3 separate regions of the Homo sapiens genome follow, and all the other regions are linked to region 1. The links come from fine-mapping of genetic effects on gene expression. A gene starts in region 1. Each other region holds a variant in brackets. All regions are shown on one strand. Distances are between the middles of the regions. Region 1 holds the start of MGAT5 (alpha-1,6-mannosylglycoprotein 6-beta-N-acetylglucosaminyltransferase). Region 2 overlaps MGAT5 (alpha-1,6-mannosylglycoprotein 6-beta-N-acetylglucosaminyltransferase). Region 3 has its middle 20 kb from the start of MGAT5.

What was found. PIP is the estimated chance that this variant, and not a neighbour inherited with it, causes the effect. A credible set is the group of variants that fine-mapping cannot tell apart.
Region 2: its variant is the best candidate, but not a certain one, in a credible set for the expression of MGAT5 in activated naive CD4 T cells (Schmiedel 2018, PIP 0.89).
Region 3: its variant is the best candidate, but not a certain one, in a credible set for the expression of MGAT5 in whole blood (INTERVAL, PIP 0.66).

The regions. Positions count from the first base shown.
Region 1 is chr2:134,251,092-134,256,091 of GRCh38, forward strand. It overlaps MGAT5 (alpha-1,6-mannosylglycoprotein 6-beta-N-acetylglucosaminyltransferase), which reads left to right and starts at 2,981. Exons shown (of 16, transcript NM_002410.5): 1 at 2,981-3,553. The coding sequence starts at 3,313. RefSeq lists an enhancer at 37-126.
Region 2 is chr2:134,293,726-134,299,761 of GRCh38, forward strand. All of the region lies in intron 2 of MGAT5 (alpha-1,6-mannosylglycoprotein 6-beta-N-acetylglucosaminyltransferase), which reads left to right. Among named protein-coding and RNA genes, the nearest start is that of MGAT5, 43 kb to the left of the region's middle. The variant A/G (reference allele first, on the strand shown) is at 2,762.
Region 3 is chr2:134,231,420-134,237,362 of GRCh38, forward strand. It overlaps a transcript of MGAT5 not described here. Among named protein-coding and RNA genes, the nearest start is that of MGAT5, 20 kb to the right of the region's middle. The variant A/G (reference allele first, on the strand shown) is at 2,034.

The DNA.
Region 1 (5,000 bases):
TGAAAGAAAAATCACCTTTTTTGATGTAGCACCTCATTGGCTTGCTCTAGGAAAATTCCTTCAGCCCTGGTTCAAAATTAAGTAATGAGTAATGAGTATGGGTTATCAAAAAAAAAAAAAGCCAATTCCCTTGGAGCTAGGTGCAGCACCTAGTTCGTAATGTGGCTGTCAGAGTGTAATTCTGATGGGGTGGAAACTCCATCTTGTTCACTGTTCAGTCACCAGGGCCTGATGGCCGCTCATGCTCAATATAGACTTGGCGCGGAGCGGAGTGGAGGAAGGAAAGAGGGCAGGTGCTAGTTGGCTGGCCTGCAGTTAGAAGGGCTGAATAAAGTGCTGTAGTGCCCTAGGCGACATATTCATTTAGCAGATACTTTATTGTGCCACTGTGGTCAGTGCCTTTCTCTGAGAAGGTGTGTGTGTGGGGAGGGGCTCCCTAAAGGATGTCATAGAGTCCCACATAGAAACTTTGAACAATCCAAGGTAGACAGGTGTTTTTAACTCATAATACTCCTTTATTCCCTGTTTTAAAAATTTTTTTAAATTTGATACAATAATTATACATAATAATGGAGTACCATGTGAGATTCAATCCACATATACATTGTGAAATGATCAAATTAGGATAGTTAGCATGCACATCACCCCCAAATAATTATTACTTTTGTGGTGAGAACACTTAAAATTGTCTCTTTTAGAAATATACGTTATTATTAACCATAGTCACCTTGCTGTGCAATAGAACACCAGAACTTATTCCTCCTAAATGTAACTTTTTACCCATTGACCACTCCCTCCTCATCCCCCTCTCTCCTCCCCACCCCTGGTAACCACTGTTCTGTTATCTCCTATGATAGCAACTTTTTAGCTTCTGCATGTGAGATTGTACGGTAGTTGCCTTTCTGTGCCTGGATTATTTCATTTAGCATAATGTCCTTCGGGTATATCCCTGTTGCTGCAAAAGACAGGATTTCTCTCTCTTTTTCTGGTTGAATAGTATTCCATTGTCAGAGAAGTGTTGTAAGACTAGGAAAGGAACACTGCAGGCTGGAGCCCTGGGGAAAGTGGTCTGAGGCAGGTGGTGGGACTAGAGCTGGGGTCTGGCAAACAGGCTGGGTTTGATTGTCAGCATAATAGAGAGCACTCATGTGCCAGCTGGGTGGGAGGAGCAGCCGAGTGAAGAAGGGGAAGCCTCTCAGGAAGCATGTGCAGGGTTTATGGTAATGAGCAGACCAGCAGGTACGTAGTGGGAGAGGGGTGTGATGGGGCAGAGGAACTTACGTTATGATAGTACAAGACAGAGGTTGAGCCTCATTTTAATAGGCATTGTGGTGGGTGTTGAATAGTGATGGAATGTATGGGTCTGGAATCAGGCTGCCTGGTCAAGGGCTCTGAAACATGAGTGTGCATCAGAATCACCTCGAGGCTTGTTAAAGGATAGGCTGTGGACCACATCTCCTCAGTTGCTGATTCAGTGGGTGTGGGTGGGGCCTGAGAATTCACATTTCTCACTGGTGATGCTGCTGTTACTGAGTTTGGGACCACATTTGGAGAACCACTGGTCTAGAATTGAGAGGTTGGCAAACCTTCTCTGTTAAGAGGTAGATAGTAAATATTTTAGGCCTTCTGGGCTACAAAGAGTATCTGTTACATATTTTTTATTGCTTTTCATGACCCATTAAGCATATATATATCATTCTCTGCCATATACAAACAGGCTGTTGGGGGAGTGAGGATGATGTAGGGAAGGTGGGGCATGGTTTAATAACCCCTGGGCCATGCCTAGATGATCAGTCCTCTGCCACATAGCTGGCTGACCTTTGCCAAGTTAATCACCTTTTACCTTTATTTTCTCATGTTTCTAATAAAACAGAGACGATAATATTCATACTTCTTACCATATAGAACTTCTGAGGATTCAGTGAGCAAAGCCACAAAAGATGGTATGTCACAATATCTGGGATATAGCTAGAATTTATAATTTATTTTTACTCTGTTGATAGGCAATGGGAAAACAGTAAGAGGCAGACCAACAGTGATCCAGGGCTCTGAAAGCTAATTGCTTCAAGATCCTGCTACCATTTTCTTTTGGGCCGCTTGCAAAGAAGAATCCTTTGACTGAAGCATGTATGTACACTCTGAAGTACAGCCTGGGTTAGTCTCTTATAAGGGATCGGATCATTGCTCAGCCTCTCCCTTGAGTGGCACTTAGAAAATGGCGCTATTCGTAAGCTGACTGGTATTGGGCCCAGGACTCTGGCTGAAGGGGTGGGCATGCTGGTAACCATTTGCAACCTATGCTCAGGTCCTACTTGTTGGGAAGCCCTGATTGAGAAGAGTGGCCTGGTCTGTGCTGGCATTAGATAGGATCTGGCTGCATTAATATTGAAACTACTCTGCCTTTTAATGTCTCATTTTGCCTCATGGTGGGAGTGAAAGTGAGAACCACAGAAAATCTGCCTGCCAGGTGTTCCACATTTCTTGTGCTACAGCATGCAAGTGAGCAGTGAGGTGTACCTTTTCCTCATGTAGCTGGGAAAGCAATACCCCTGCTTGTACCTCTGGCATATCTTCTCTGTGCTGGTGCACCTAGAGAGGTTGCCTGGTGGCCCTGAGAGAGCCATCTCATCACTAAACACTGATGGTGAAAGCTGGCCATGCTCAAATAAGATGTAGCAATCTACCTCTTCTTTGTCTAGTTACCCCCAAGGGGGCATCCACTTTCTTGCTCACCTCACCAGTTGCATGTTCTAGTCCTTGCCAGAAGCACATAATAATGACTTTGTAAGCTTAAGTTACAGGCACACAAAAGGGCCTGATGGTGATATGACTCCACCCTCCCCGTTTTTGCTGACATTCCGCCAAATATCCTTCTGTCTCCTCCCCACCTTGCAAAACAAACTTCCTGTTTTGAATTTGGTCCAGGCTGGAACAGCCCCACTACACCTGTTAACACACGCAGACGCACACTTCCCCCTTCATAATTGCTTAGCTTCTTGTTGCCTAGCCAGATTTCCCCTCAGCTTACAGTTCCTGAATCATAAGATATTGAACCAGCAAATTTAAGAGTTGACATTTTACTTAGAGGTATTCAAGTGAAAACATGGCTTCTGGTTTATTTTGCTGTATTGTGCCATGACCACTTGGCTAATTCTTCTCCTCCTTCACAGCAGAATGGAAGTGAGGAAAGGCAACCAGCTGACACAGGAGCCAGAGTGAGACCAGCAGACTCTCACACTCAACCTACACCATGAATTTGTGTCTATCTTCTACGCGTTAAGAGCCAAGGACAGGTGAAGTTGCCAGAGAGCAATGGCTCTCTTCACTCCGTGGAAGTTGTCCTCTCAGAAGCTGGGCTTTTTCCTGGTGACTTTTGGCTTCATTTGGGGTATGATGCTTCTGCACTTTACCATCCAGCAGCGAACTCAGCCTGAAAGCAGCTCCATGCTGCGCGAGCAGATCCTGGACCTCAGCAAAAGGTACATCAAGGCACTGGCAGAAGAAAACAGGAATGTGGTGGATGGGCCATACGCTGGAGTCATGACAGCTTATGGTAAGCACTGTTTCTGGGACCTCTCCATTAAAGTGTGCCTTGGCCTTGAAATGGCCCTAGAAGCTCCCAGATATGGTCTTGTCATGGACTGAATGTCCTTTGCCACTGCCTTCATAAGCAGTGAATTGCACACAGAGAGGCATCTTTAGGAAATTAAAGCAATGCCATTTTGGGGGTTCTGAGCTGGTGTATGCAGACACACTTTCCCCTGGAGTCAGTGGGTTAGTATAGTTAGGGCTCTATTGGTTGTGTTTGCAGCTAGCTCCTTCTCCCTGAACACATTTCAGGAACCATGTGATCTCATGTGGGAGTGAGTTCAGGGAATGCTGAAAAATATTCTCATCTTTCCCTAAACAAAACTTAATTAAGGCTGGTGGGGGTGAGGTGAAGAGGATGGGGAGGAATGTTCTATGGAAGCCAGTAAACTTAGAGCCAATTGTGTTCCTCCCTCCAGCCAATAAATATGACACTGGCACTTGCATGCTGGTGAGTTTTAACCTTTGGCTTCTTGAGGTTATGTTGCTCTTCTTCTTGCCCTTGTCTCTAACTGCCCTCACTTTGAAAGGAATCTTTGTGTACTTGTTGCTTTTTCTTTAAAGAATTTTTTTCAGAATTCTTTTTGAAATCAGAAAGAGTAAAAAAATACACATATGGGATGTAACTTATTTTTCTTTTATGTTTAATATAGAAAAAGTTGGAAGCTGTAGACAAGCAAAAAAAGAAAAAAATTACACATAAGTCTACTACTCCAGGCAATAACCACAATTAACATTTCAGTGTGTATTTTTCTGATACTTTGCATACACACACAAATATATATATACATATATATACATATATACATATATATACACATATATACACATATATATATACACACACATATATATATACATACACATACACACACAAATACTTGGAAAAAAATTGCAAATGGAATTTAGATCATGCTGTGTTTTGCAGAGCAGACTTGGTCTGTAGAAGATGACCTGTTGTTGAGTGACAAGAGTCTGATCATTGAATTGAGGTTTCAGTGGTCTCACTGAAGTGGTCTCCCTGATAGTATAGATGAGATGCAAGAATGGGGTTAGGTGAGGTGGAGAAAGTGGAGTTGTGTTTTGTGACCCACTCAAGGAAGGTGCCCTGAAGTATGCCGATTTCAAATCGTGATTCCCAAAAATGTGCAGCAACAGTTCAGTTCAGTGCAGGTTGAGTTCAGACACAGGAAATCATACTCAGTTATACATGTGCTTCTTTCTTTCCAAAAGGGGAAAAAAACTTGTTTTTAAAAAAGTATGTAAAATTTTATACACACGTATGTGTATGTGTGTGTGTGTATGTGTATATATTAGAAGATGCTTACTTCTGAGGAACATTTTAGAAATTCTTTTCTAGTTCTTACTATGTAAATAATCACACTCTGCATTTAATCTGTTAAAAGTGTCTG
Region 2 (6,036 bases), 43 kb after region 1:
TCCGAAAGTGCTTCCTTGCTTTAAATTGAAGAAAAGCCAAGCTGGAAAACTATAGATTTTGATAGCAGCCAAACCCCTTGAGTCTGCAGTTGGCTGACACCATGATGTGTGATGGCTCCCAGGTCTGCGACTATGGCTTTGCTAGCATGAAATGAGACCATCTCCTCTCCTCATACAGAAGTGTGTGGAGGATGTGAAACAGAGTAGGGAGGTAGGAGGGCTGGACCACATCCTAGGCAGGTAACTTGCCCCCTTTGTTCGTTGGCTTCCCAGACTCCTCGTAGTTGTTTTAGGTGGATCTAGAAAAGATTGCCTCATGGAGCACTGCATGTTCAGTGTAAAGATGTGTCACTTTTCTTACAGCCTCAAATCTTTTGCCTCTGAGTGAGGAGGCAAATGGAGGAGAGAGAAGTTTTATTCTACCTTCCAGGGTGGCTATTCTGCACTGTTTTAGGCATCATCAGGTAAATAAGGCATCCATTGTTCTCTGCGGTTTAGCCCCATAGACCTGTTAAGTCATGGGAAGATCTCTGCACTGGCAGTAAAGTAACTTTTTGTTTTCAGTGTTTTTATTTTTATTTTCATGTTTCCAAGTCTTAATATAAGGTCTTAACGTAGGGGCTTTTTGGAGCTGCTGGGTGATTTTGCCTCACAAACCACTAAGACTAAGTATTCGGGGTATGATGTTCATATTTCTGAGACAAATTTAGAAATACATACAGTCTAACCAAGGATTTTTGTTCCAGGTATATACCACTGCAGGTCAAGTTCTGTGTAAGGGGATTTGTAGTTGTGAATGCCAAGGGCTTGGTTTTATAGAAGGTAGGTGTAAAAAATAGAGGTTCCTCTTCAAAGACTTTCCTCCCCGTCTAATTAAGAATAAATAGTAACTTCTCTTAGAAGCAAAATTTATTCAAAGACCTGTGCTAACATTCTTAAATATCTGCTAGCCGTAATAAAGAAATCAATGTACTTTATGTTCTTAGCTCCCACAATTTAGCCTAAATATTTGCTTATAAGTATGTTTATACTGGTCCAAGCAAGCATTAGGTCATAGTCTGTTCCTCTTCCTTATTTAAATGTGTTTTTACCTTTCTCAGCATTTCACAAGTTACTTCCTCTTTCCTTTGTTCTCCTCTGCCTTTGCCTCTTTTAAAATGTTCTAAGTTGCTAGCCAATCAGGACAAATACAGAATGTGAGGTCCTGTTCCAGCCAATGGAAACTGGACACAGCAGTAAGGTGGACGCGTCAACTTATAAATGACCCTGCCTCCTTTGTTCGGTGTACTATCGTGGCAAAACTGCTGGCAAGTGTACCCTTTCTGTAGAAAGTAAAAATGGCCTTGCTAAGGAAATTAAATTTATGTTCAAGTGCTATTTCTTTATTGCACCGAGGAACAAGCATTTCTAACAGTAGGTTTTAGTATATAGTTTAGATGTTCCTTATGTTGATTGACATTTGATGGCTCTTCAGTGGTTCGAAGATGCCAGAAAAGAACAATGAGAATGGCCAGAAAAATCTAGAAACTATGGTGAAAGTACTTACAAGTTGAATATAGCCATAATAGAACTGGATTGTGCTAGAAGTGACTAAGGTTGGCAGTGGAATTGGGAGCTTAGTAGGCCCAATCAACTGTGTGGCTTTCTTCACTTAGGCAGGGAAAATGTGGTATCTTAGGATCCTCTTGCAGTAATTTCCAAACATAAGAGCTGCGAAATAAGTTATAATTGGAAAAAAATCTTCAATGATGTTGAAAATATTTTTCCCTCTGGATTAGCCTTCTCTTTTATTCTCAGTCATAATTTTAGTAGGGAGTTTTGTTGTCACTTTAAGGGTATTCATTCCATTTCGACTTGTCACCCAGATTCTCTTCGAGGATGACAAGAACAGCCAGTAGTGGCTGGCTTGTGGCTCTTCTGTGCTGTTGCTGGCTGCAGCCAAACAGGAAAGGGCTGTTCGGAGTTTCTATTGGAACCATCAGGAATACTGTTTGGTCAGCTTTGCTACCTGACAGGAATGGTTTTGGGAAGCTTGAATTATACCAAGTTGCAGTCTGTTTCAGTTCAGCCTCTTGCCTTAATATAACAGATACTCCCCTGTCTTAATCTAAACAGTGCTTAAGGGTGGGGAGATGGGTTCGGTGGATTTACAGCATTCCTTCTGAACCCTAAGAATCTGTGGTTTTATTATTTGTAGTGCAACCCAAAAATAACTACAATTTTTATTTGGGAGGTGGAAATTAGAGGTAAAATTCTTTGGAAGGGAAGAGGATTTCATCTAGGAGTGTTTGGCAGCCTCATGCAAACATGTTTGTTCTTATTTGAATTTTGACTCTTGAAATACTGTGATCTTGGCGGTTTAGGCCAAGAGGTGGGGTAAAGAGGAGGATGGGAAACAGACTAAACTCATGGAATTTCATGTAGCTGGGTAGGCCAAGTCGACTCTAGTTTAGTTACCATGTTTTCTTTGTGGCTGTGTCAGAGAATTGGGGATGGACACATGGAATTTAAAAAATAACACACAATTTTAAAAGTTATTACCACCATATAAAACTAGCTGGACCTGGGAGTCAGTTTCTGGAATTTATGGGCATTAAAGAAATGCCGAATATTAAATTACTTGGTTTGGTATCGAGGGAGTGGCTGCCTGGCTCTTAACAGTTTTTGTGAATTTCCTGTTCTTTTTATCCTTGGCTTCAAGTTTTTATTGATGGAAGGTTAAATATTCTTTTTTTTTCCTTTGTAGCATATGACTAAACCT[A/G]TGGTTCTTTTGCTTCCTCTTTTTTTCCCCTTGTCTTGTTTTTCCCTTTCACCCCAGGAATTAATTATAGTACTTGAAAGAAAACCACTTTCCTTAGTCTTATAAAGTACATAAGAGACAGTAAAAAATAGAAAATCTTTTTATACAACTGACCTTGTTTCTGCAGACATTGTAATCTATTCCACTTAACCTCTCTTTCTTCTGTTATTTTACTTTGTTAAGATAGACTTGACATTTGATTAGGAAAAAAAATATGCATTCAAATGTTATGAGATATAGAATCCAAAAAAGGGAAGATTGCAGAAATTTAAAATAAATGTAAAAGATTACAAGGTAATACAATGAATAAGTTCATACTATGAAATGACACAACTTTGATGACATGGAAAAATTCCTAGACACAATCTGTACTGACTCAAAATCATCTGAAGGTGGGGTGGAGTGGCTCATACCTGTAATTCTAGCACTTTGGGAGGCAGAGGCGGGAGGAGTGCTTGAAACCAAGAGTTTAAGATCAGCCTGGGCAACACAGTGAGACCCCATTATCTACAAAAAATAAAATTAGCTGGGTGTGGTGACACACACTTGTGGTCCTAGCTACTTGGGAGGCTGAGGTGGGAGAATCACTTGAGCCCAGGAGATTAAGATTGCAGTGAGCCTTGATTGTGCCCCTACAGTCCAGCTTGGGCAACAGACTGAGACCTGGTCTCAAAAAAAAAAAAAAAAAAAAATCATCTGAATAGCTCAATAACAAAGAATTTGAACTAATAATTAGAACTTTTCCTACAAAGAAAAACCCATGCTCAGATGGCTTCACTGGTGAATTCTTTTAGGTATGTTAAGAGGAAATGACACTGATTCTTCACAGATTCTTCCATGAAATATAGAAGGAGGGAATACCTTGCAATTCATTCTGCCAGTAACACCCTGTTACCAAAGCTAGACAAAGACATCACAAGTGAACAACAGACCATGAACTCCTATAAACACTGACACAAATTCTTAAAATATTAGAACCCCAAATTTGGCAACATATGAAAAGGGTTATATATAATGAACAATTGGAATTTATTCTAGAAACACAAGGTTGGTTTAACATTCAGAAATCTATTAATATAATACTCCATAATAGAACAAAGGTCAGAAATCATGTTACCTTAATATAAGCAGAAAAGCATTTGAGAAAATCTGATTCATGAAAGCAATTCTCAACAAACTAGGAAAAACATACAGGTTAACATCATACTTACTAGAAAAGAACTGTTTAATTTTTTTTTTCTCCTAAGATTAGGAAAATGGCAAGGCTGTTCACTCTTGCCACTTCTATTCAATAATATATTTGTTAACTGTTGAAGTTAAGTGATGGGTAGAAGGGATTTGTTGTATCATTCTCTGTATCCTTGTGTATGTTTCAAATTTTTTTCTGATAAAAATTGAGGAAAACAAATATAGGTTAAAAAAATAAGTCTACTAGATCCTTAAGTTTTGTTCTGTTTTCTGTTTAGCTAAATTGAGGTTCTAAAACCAGTTATTTTCTTTTAGAGTATGAACGTGTATTTCTTTGGGTTAATGTTGAATTATTTGTATAAATAATAGAGAAAAATATTATCTCTGTATTATTATTTTTGAAACAGGATCTCACTCTGTCTCCCAGGCTGGAGTGCAATAGCGTACTCTTGGCTCACTGCCACCTCCGCCTCCTGGGTTCAAGCAATTCTCCTACCTCAGCCTCCCAAGTAGCTGAGATTACAGACATATGCTACCATACCTGGCTCATTTTTTTGTATTTTTTGTAGAGACGATGTTTCACCATGTTGGCCAGGCTCGTCTTGAACTCCCGACCTCAAGTGATCTACCTGCCTCGGCCTCCCAAAGTACTGGGATTACAAGCGTGAGCCACCATGCCTGGCCTATCTCTGTATTATTTATCACCAAATAAAAATTATGGTGTTTATAAAAAATGTAGAGTTAGAACACTATTTCTTTTCATAATAAGTTATGTCACTTATATTTTTTCCACTCCTAAGAATGATCAGCAAATCAGAGGAGCTGTTAGGGCAGTTAGACACCATGCGGATCATATTCTGTTGTAACAAATCCTTGTTTATCATAATTCAACATCAACTAAATATAGTTGTGAATTTCCAGATGTTGGAAGGTGTTTTCAATAAATTTGGTACTGCAGATGGTTTGGGTGGTCTCCTGGAGTCTCTTTTGATTAGATGTGATCAGAAGTATACTTGAGAGCTTAGTCTAGGATAGGAATTGGAGAAGAGGTAGTTCATAATGGTGATGGTTGAGTGTGTTTATGTAGGCAGGAACCATGGGTTGGGATTGGGGCTGGTTGAGTGTTCTGTATGAAAGACGATTCCAGGCAGGAAGCATGAAAGCAATTTAAGACTGTACCTTCCCTCTGAATGAAAAAGTCAAAAGAAGAATGGAAGAAGAAGGAAGTCACATTTAGAAGATAAGAATTCTTCTGCTTTCTTGTGAAAGTTAGTGTCCCATTTGAGAATAATATTCTTACCTAGATCTTCCCAATTGTACTTTTCCTTCTTGCCCAAAAACACTTGCCCATCGTTTCTTCTTCTTCCCTAGAATTTATATCTTTCCAAGCGTCAATACCACTATCATCATCTGTAGTCCACAAAATCTCTGTCAATTCTGTGAGCCAGTGTTATTCTGGAGCATACAAAAGCAGACTGACACATGGCCACTGACTTTGTGGAAGTTGGTCTCACTGGCTTTGCAGTCTTTGTAGGTATGTGCATTTCTGCACACAAACAAATTCCAATTAGAGGATGGTCAAAGCCAACACCAGATTTTTAGTTTTAGATTGTTCAGTATAGACTAAAAATTTTATAGGTGTTCACAGGCACCCTGGAAGTACCTGTGCGAGCTGGAGTACTCTTGTGAAGTTTCACAGATAGAGGAGAGCTTGAGCTAGGCCTGCAGGTAAGGTAGGGTTTGGAATGCTAATTGCAACCTTCATCAAGTTGAATAAATTGAAGTGAGATTTGTATTTAAGGTTTTGTAGCTTTTTTGTTTTTTAAAATGCAGTGTGTCTGAATCAGGATCTTCTTTATTTCAGCAAGATGAACTACAAGTGTTGGTAAAGGTAGTTAAAATCCCCTCTTCTGATTTCATAGTGGTAGAGCCCAAACCCAGTATCTAATATTTATCCCCTGTCCCCTCTTTTATTCCTCATGAATTTTTTCAGATTGGATGTGTACAGACTCCATTCAAAAATTTTAAAAAGTTCCCATTTCAAAGCT
Region 3 (5,943 bases), 19 kb before region 1:
AACCTAGACAAATAATTATCAAATAAACTGCATTCCTCTGTGGTGGGTGGTAAATGCTTCCTGTGTAGCAATGTACAAATTCCTATGTCAAGATCTTCATAGGCTGTCTTGATGTCTTCTCATGTGGAATTCTTCCTTTCACTTTGGAACACCATTTCTTAAAGAGATTATGGCAAAGTGAAATAATTAGTTGCTTGATTTATTGATGGATGATTTCCCTCATTCACCCTCTGGAGTTCTTTTAATAGAAATGTTAGAAACCCAGACCCTCTAGAACCTGTGGGGAGCAGCTTGGTTGAGTAGCTCTCTACCCACTGGAGGTATTTGGGGAAAGATCACTGGGTTTGTGGCTGGCTGTGAAAATGATCAGACCAGGGCGGGGCCAAGTGGCTGACATGGCTGAGTAGTGGCTGGTCCTTCTTGCCTGCTGTGCCGAGTTGTCTGTCCCCTGGTACTTTACACCCAGTGAGTTGAGGAAGAAGGAATTACCTCTCTAGACAAAGATCGTTCTGTCTGCAATATATGATATAGTACTATTGCTCTGTGGAAGCTTCAGGCAGCCATCCTCCCTCACAAACCAGCTCCTCCATTTTCCTGTCTTGGTGAATGACATGTCACCTTTTCCTCAGCTGCCCAAGCTGGAAGCCTAGTGGTCATTCTATACTCCTCCTCCTCCTCCTCGTCTTCCCTCATTCCTTCCAGTTAGTCATTGCCCACTGTCCTGCTGATTTGACCTCTTAAGTATTTCTAGCATTTGGTTTCTTATTATGACTGGACTGCCACTACCCTGTTCAGGCCTTTATTGGACTCATTTCTCACCCGGATTTTCATGAGCCACCCTTCAAACCCATCCTCTACACAGCAGCCAATATCAAATATGGTGGCCTCAGCACTGTTAAATGTCTTCAGTGATTTACCTGCCATTTGGTGGTGGTTCTTACTCAACAGGGGAGGAGTTTCAGATCATCTAGGAACCAGAACCCTTTTCAAAGTATTTAGGTGTATATCCTATTCTGGACCCATTAGCTGAAGAGGGGCCTTGGGAAAGGGCTTCTACATCTTGAAAAATCTCCCCAAACAGGATGATACCCAATAAGTAATGCTTAGAAAACAATTTATTTTGAAATAATTTCACAGGAAGTTGTAAAAACAGTACAAAGAGACCCACGGACCCATCCTTCCCCAGATTTCATGCTCTGTTACAATACCAAACCAGGAAGTTGATACTAACAGGTTACTGTTAATAGACCACAGACCTATGTAATGTTTTTTTAATGCCCATTTTTCTTGTTAGGTTGGAGTGTGGCACTTCCTGCTAACCTGAGATGTTAGATTATTTCTTAACTGGTGCACATTTTCATTTAAGAATGGCATGGGTCTTCTTGATTCTGTGGGTGGTGGTTGTTATGGTGTGTTATGGTGTGTCTTCTTGTATGTACATGTGTGTGAGATATTGGTGGCAATTACCAGTTTTTCCTTGCAGAGTGAATTATATCCCCAAAGAGTTTGCCAAGAATACATTTGAGTAATGTAATTCTGTCTAGTGACCTAAGGTCATAACTTTCTTAAGTTAAAAAGTTAAAACTGCCACAACAGGTTTTATGCTAGAAGAATAGTATAGACATTGATTCTTCTTGAATCCAAGATTCAGTTAGCTTAAAATGATGTCATCGTGAGTTGTTTTCCAGGTATGTGTAAATCTGACTTTGTTTTTTGTAGATTGTAAAATATAAGGGTACAGGGCTGGTTCTGTGTTTTATTTTGTTTTCTGTACTTGTTTTATTCATAAGTCTAAAATATAGTGTCTACCAGGGAATGGCTCTATGCAATGAATCACAGTGTAGTTTTGCTTTGAGAGATGGGGTATTACTATGGGTCATAATGAATTCAGTGGAATGGATTTCAGACTTTTAGGTGCTGACCCAGAAAATTCTTTGAAGTAGCAATCTTTACCAATGCTAGGAATTGGGCTAGTCTGCTTTGCTTCCTCATCAAAACTGATGGACAAGATAGAAAATGCCTTTTTATCAGTT[A/G]CAGTAACATTTTGCTGACACTTGGTGCATTTTTTTTATGTGTTTCACACAGATATGCTTACATCCTTTGAGAAAAGGAACTGAAGGGAAGAAAGAAAACCACAACTGCTTTAGAATAAAACTAGGTCAGCAAAGGCAGATCTTAATGTATTTAGATCAGGCAGAAGGCTAGGTCCTTCCACCTTACTCACAGAGGCCTCTGGGGCTCATTGTAGGAGTCATGAGACTTCTCCAGTAACTCTCATCAAGGATCGGTCACTAGACTAGGCCCTTTGCAAATTTAAACCCTGCAGGTAGACATTTTACAGATAAGGAAACTGGATCTTCATTTCTGTAACTTCAAGAGGGCACAGGGCTGGCTTATGTCAGTGCAGAGATTTTAATCTGAATCTAATTCCCAAGCCTCTCTGCCACACCAGATTGCCTCTCTATTCATGCACAACACTCTAGGTTTGACTCTGGCTCTCTTGAATAATTCCGAAGCAGACTTCTAAGAGAGGATTGCAAAGGCCAACTTCTTTCACAGCTGAGAAGCTGCCTTCTGAGGTGTATCTCTGAGTGGAGAAATCAGAACGCTAGATGCTATGTCCTTTCATGATGGGTAATAATCTCATTAGAGCAGGGAGACTTTGTGGTCTAAAGAGAGAAGGAAACAGTCAGTTGAAAGTTGCTCATGTGTTTCATTTTTCTGTGTTTCTCATACTTTGTTATTGATGTGATGAAGTAGTTGGGGGCTGAGAAGGAAGCCGGGGATTGGGGGCAGGGGTTGGTGGGAGTCAAGACTTACAGGTTCTTCCAAGAGACTCCTAGAGCAGTGATGCCTATAGTTTGCAAGGGCACCACCAGCAGCCATCTTTATTAACCAAGGGGGCTACAAGGACTTTTCCCAACAGATATTAAGTAGTTAGTTCACAGAAAGATTTGAATCTCTTCCTTCAAGAAGTTTGAGTCTCAACAGGGAGCAGATCATAAAGCTAAAAGTCAAATGTATGTATATATCAAGAATTATAAGACTATGGGGGTCCATACATAAGACACAGCAATGTGGCTCTGTCCTTCAACTAGGGTGACCAACGGGGACAAGTTTGTTCACCCTACCTTGACAGTCTTTGTGGCCCTGGGCAAGTCACTTAGGCTTTCTGGATTCTGAGGCCTGCTTCTCTCTCACCAGGTGCTTTTAAATTCCCTTCGTTTCTTGGGATTAGCAATAAGGTGTGACTAAGTCACAAGCTTGTGTTGGGTGGTGAATGAGGGCTGGAAGCCAGTGCTCAGAATCCTTTGAAAGTGATTAGCAGAAGTCAATATTTGAGAACAATACCAGCTGCTGTTTAGAAAGTCCAGAATAGTTGAGCAATTAGGATAAAGTAACAGACACCTGTCATGAGGTGGACTGAGCAGGTGAGTGAGATTGTAAACTGCCTTCAATTCAAGGTCTTGTATATTTGCCTCAGTCTTTTTATAAGACTCCCCAGCTTCAAGTGCTTAGGGTGGTGGTTGTAAGGAAGGTTGCAGATGCGTTTTATTTGGACCACCAGAATTTTTTTTTTAATCTAAATTAGCACCAGCATTTAAGAATACACAGATTTGACCAAAACTCTGGGTTTCTGGCTTCTTTGGAAAATTGGAAGATCTAGCTAACCCAGGCTGTCTTAGCTCAAGTTGTCTGGTGGTTAGAGCTGAGAAGTGGCTGCCCTATCAGAGGGGTGCCTGGTCTTTGGTTCAACACAGCCCCTGTCTCCCCTGCCATGCTCCCCGACCTCATACCTGTTTCTCTTCCCTCAGTACCCTTCTACCCACTTATCTGCCTGGGAAGGTGGTTATCTTAGATCAATAGTTCTCAACTCTGACTGCACCTTAGAGTCTCTTGGGATTGCTTTAAATTATACTGCTTTCCTGGCCCTGTGTAGACCAATTGAATTATGATCTTGGGGAGGGCTACCATTTGTATTTAAAACGTCTTCCAACATGATCGTGATACCCAGTGAGGGTTGAGAAACGAGTACCTCAGCTTGATCCTTGGGTGGGTTTTGATGGAGAGAGAGAAGAGCCACAGAGCAGAGGAATTGAGGAAAATAACCTAACCCAATCGACAGGGCCGGTAACACCATGAGCTAAATGTTAACTGAACACCCTGGGAAAAATCAGGGCACTTTAAAAAAATGAATATCCAAATGGTGTATTCATGGCACGTTTTGCTAAGGTATTAATAAACTCTCCCCACCCCAGATCCTGCTGTACTGCTGTAGGGATTTAAATCATTGTAATAATAATAGGGGTTTTTTTTTTTTGCATGGAGTGATTATAGAAGTATTTTTAATGGGCTTATAAATCTAGTGGTCATGAGAGGCAAGTGACATAGATTTAGTGTATTTGAGGCAAGGGATAAAAGGGGAGGGGGCACAGTCAAATTAGCTTTGGTTTTCTGTTTTGCATAATGACTTCATTCATCTATAATTCTCACTGTAACTCAGTTTCTGTCTTGCTCCCCCTCCCCTTCCTACCACGATCACATTCTAGGCTGTGAGTGTCATCATTCTGAAGTAGTGAAAACATCCAAGTAGCTGGAAAATACAGACCTGTTTTTCTCAGTTAAGTTGAAAATGGAAGAGCCTCAGACACCACCTATTTCTGCTGCTTAATTTTATGGGCATACAAAACCAAAGTTTTGAGATGTGGCTTGTTCAAAGCTCTGCCCCTAGCCCTGTAACTCTGCGCAGTGTTCAGAGTTGTTCTTCACGGGTCCCATGACTGCAGAGAAAGCTTGGAGCTTGCAGGCAGTGGTTCCAGGAACTTCTTTTTCTTCACCTTTTATTCCTGGTGTTTAGCCTGGACCTTGAGATTAGTTGGAGAGATATGAAGGGATGAGACCCAGTTTAGGCCACAGGATCTCCATGAAACCTCTTGAGGCTTCTCTGCAGCCCAAAAGAGTCTCTGATATGGTTTGGCTGTGTCCCCACCCAAATCTCATCTTAGTAGTTCCCATAATCCACATGTGTCGTGGGAGGTAATTTAATCACAGAGACGGTTACCCTTATGCTGTTCTCATGATAGTGAGTTCTTACAAGATCTAATGGTTTTATAGGGACCTTCCCCCCCCTTTTGCTTGGCACTTCTTGCTGCCACCATGTGAAGAAGGACATGTTTGCTTCCCCTTCCCTGAGGCCTTGGCAGCCATGCTGAACTGTGAGTCAAACCTCTTTCCTTTATAAATTACCCAGTCTCGGGTATGTCTTTATTAGCAGTGTGAGAACAGACTAATACAGGGACACGCCAATAGGGCCCCTGATTTCAGCATGTTCTGGCTGCTCTGTGGGAGTGGTGGTGGGTGTGTGCATGGTTGGAGGATGTTTCTAAGTGCAGGGACTCTGTCTTGTACCCTCAGTGTTTTCTCCTCAAAACTTTAGCATCATTGGGAGCACCCAGTAAGCCCCTTCCATGAATATTTGTCTGATGAGGTTGCAACTCTCTAGTTGGCCTCTTATCACCCTTTTATATAGTTTTCATCCTGTGGAAGATACTCTAATGTCACTTTAATATAATTGCAAGAGAAAAATAGTAAGATTTGATATCTTTCTAAACTAACAAATGTGCTAGTAATCTCTCCTTTTCCTCAGGATAGCCTTTGCAAGTTTGAGGTAGGTAGGATAGGTAGGTTATGTAGAAGGAGTATATGTGTGTGTGTGTGTGTGTGTGTGTGCGCGTGTGTGTGAATTTTTACCCTCTTGGTCTGTACTTGGCTGCTGAGCCCTAAAAGAATTGTTTTGCTCACTGCCTAAATTTTACTTGTGCCTCCTAATGTCTCTGAAATTAAGTCCCTCGTGTGAGACTTCCCACTCAGCCATTCTGGATTCTACTCTCTGTCATGGGAGGCAAGACACCTCCTAGCAGAGATGCTCCACTGGCTGGGGGA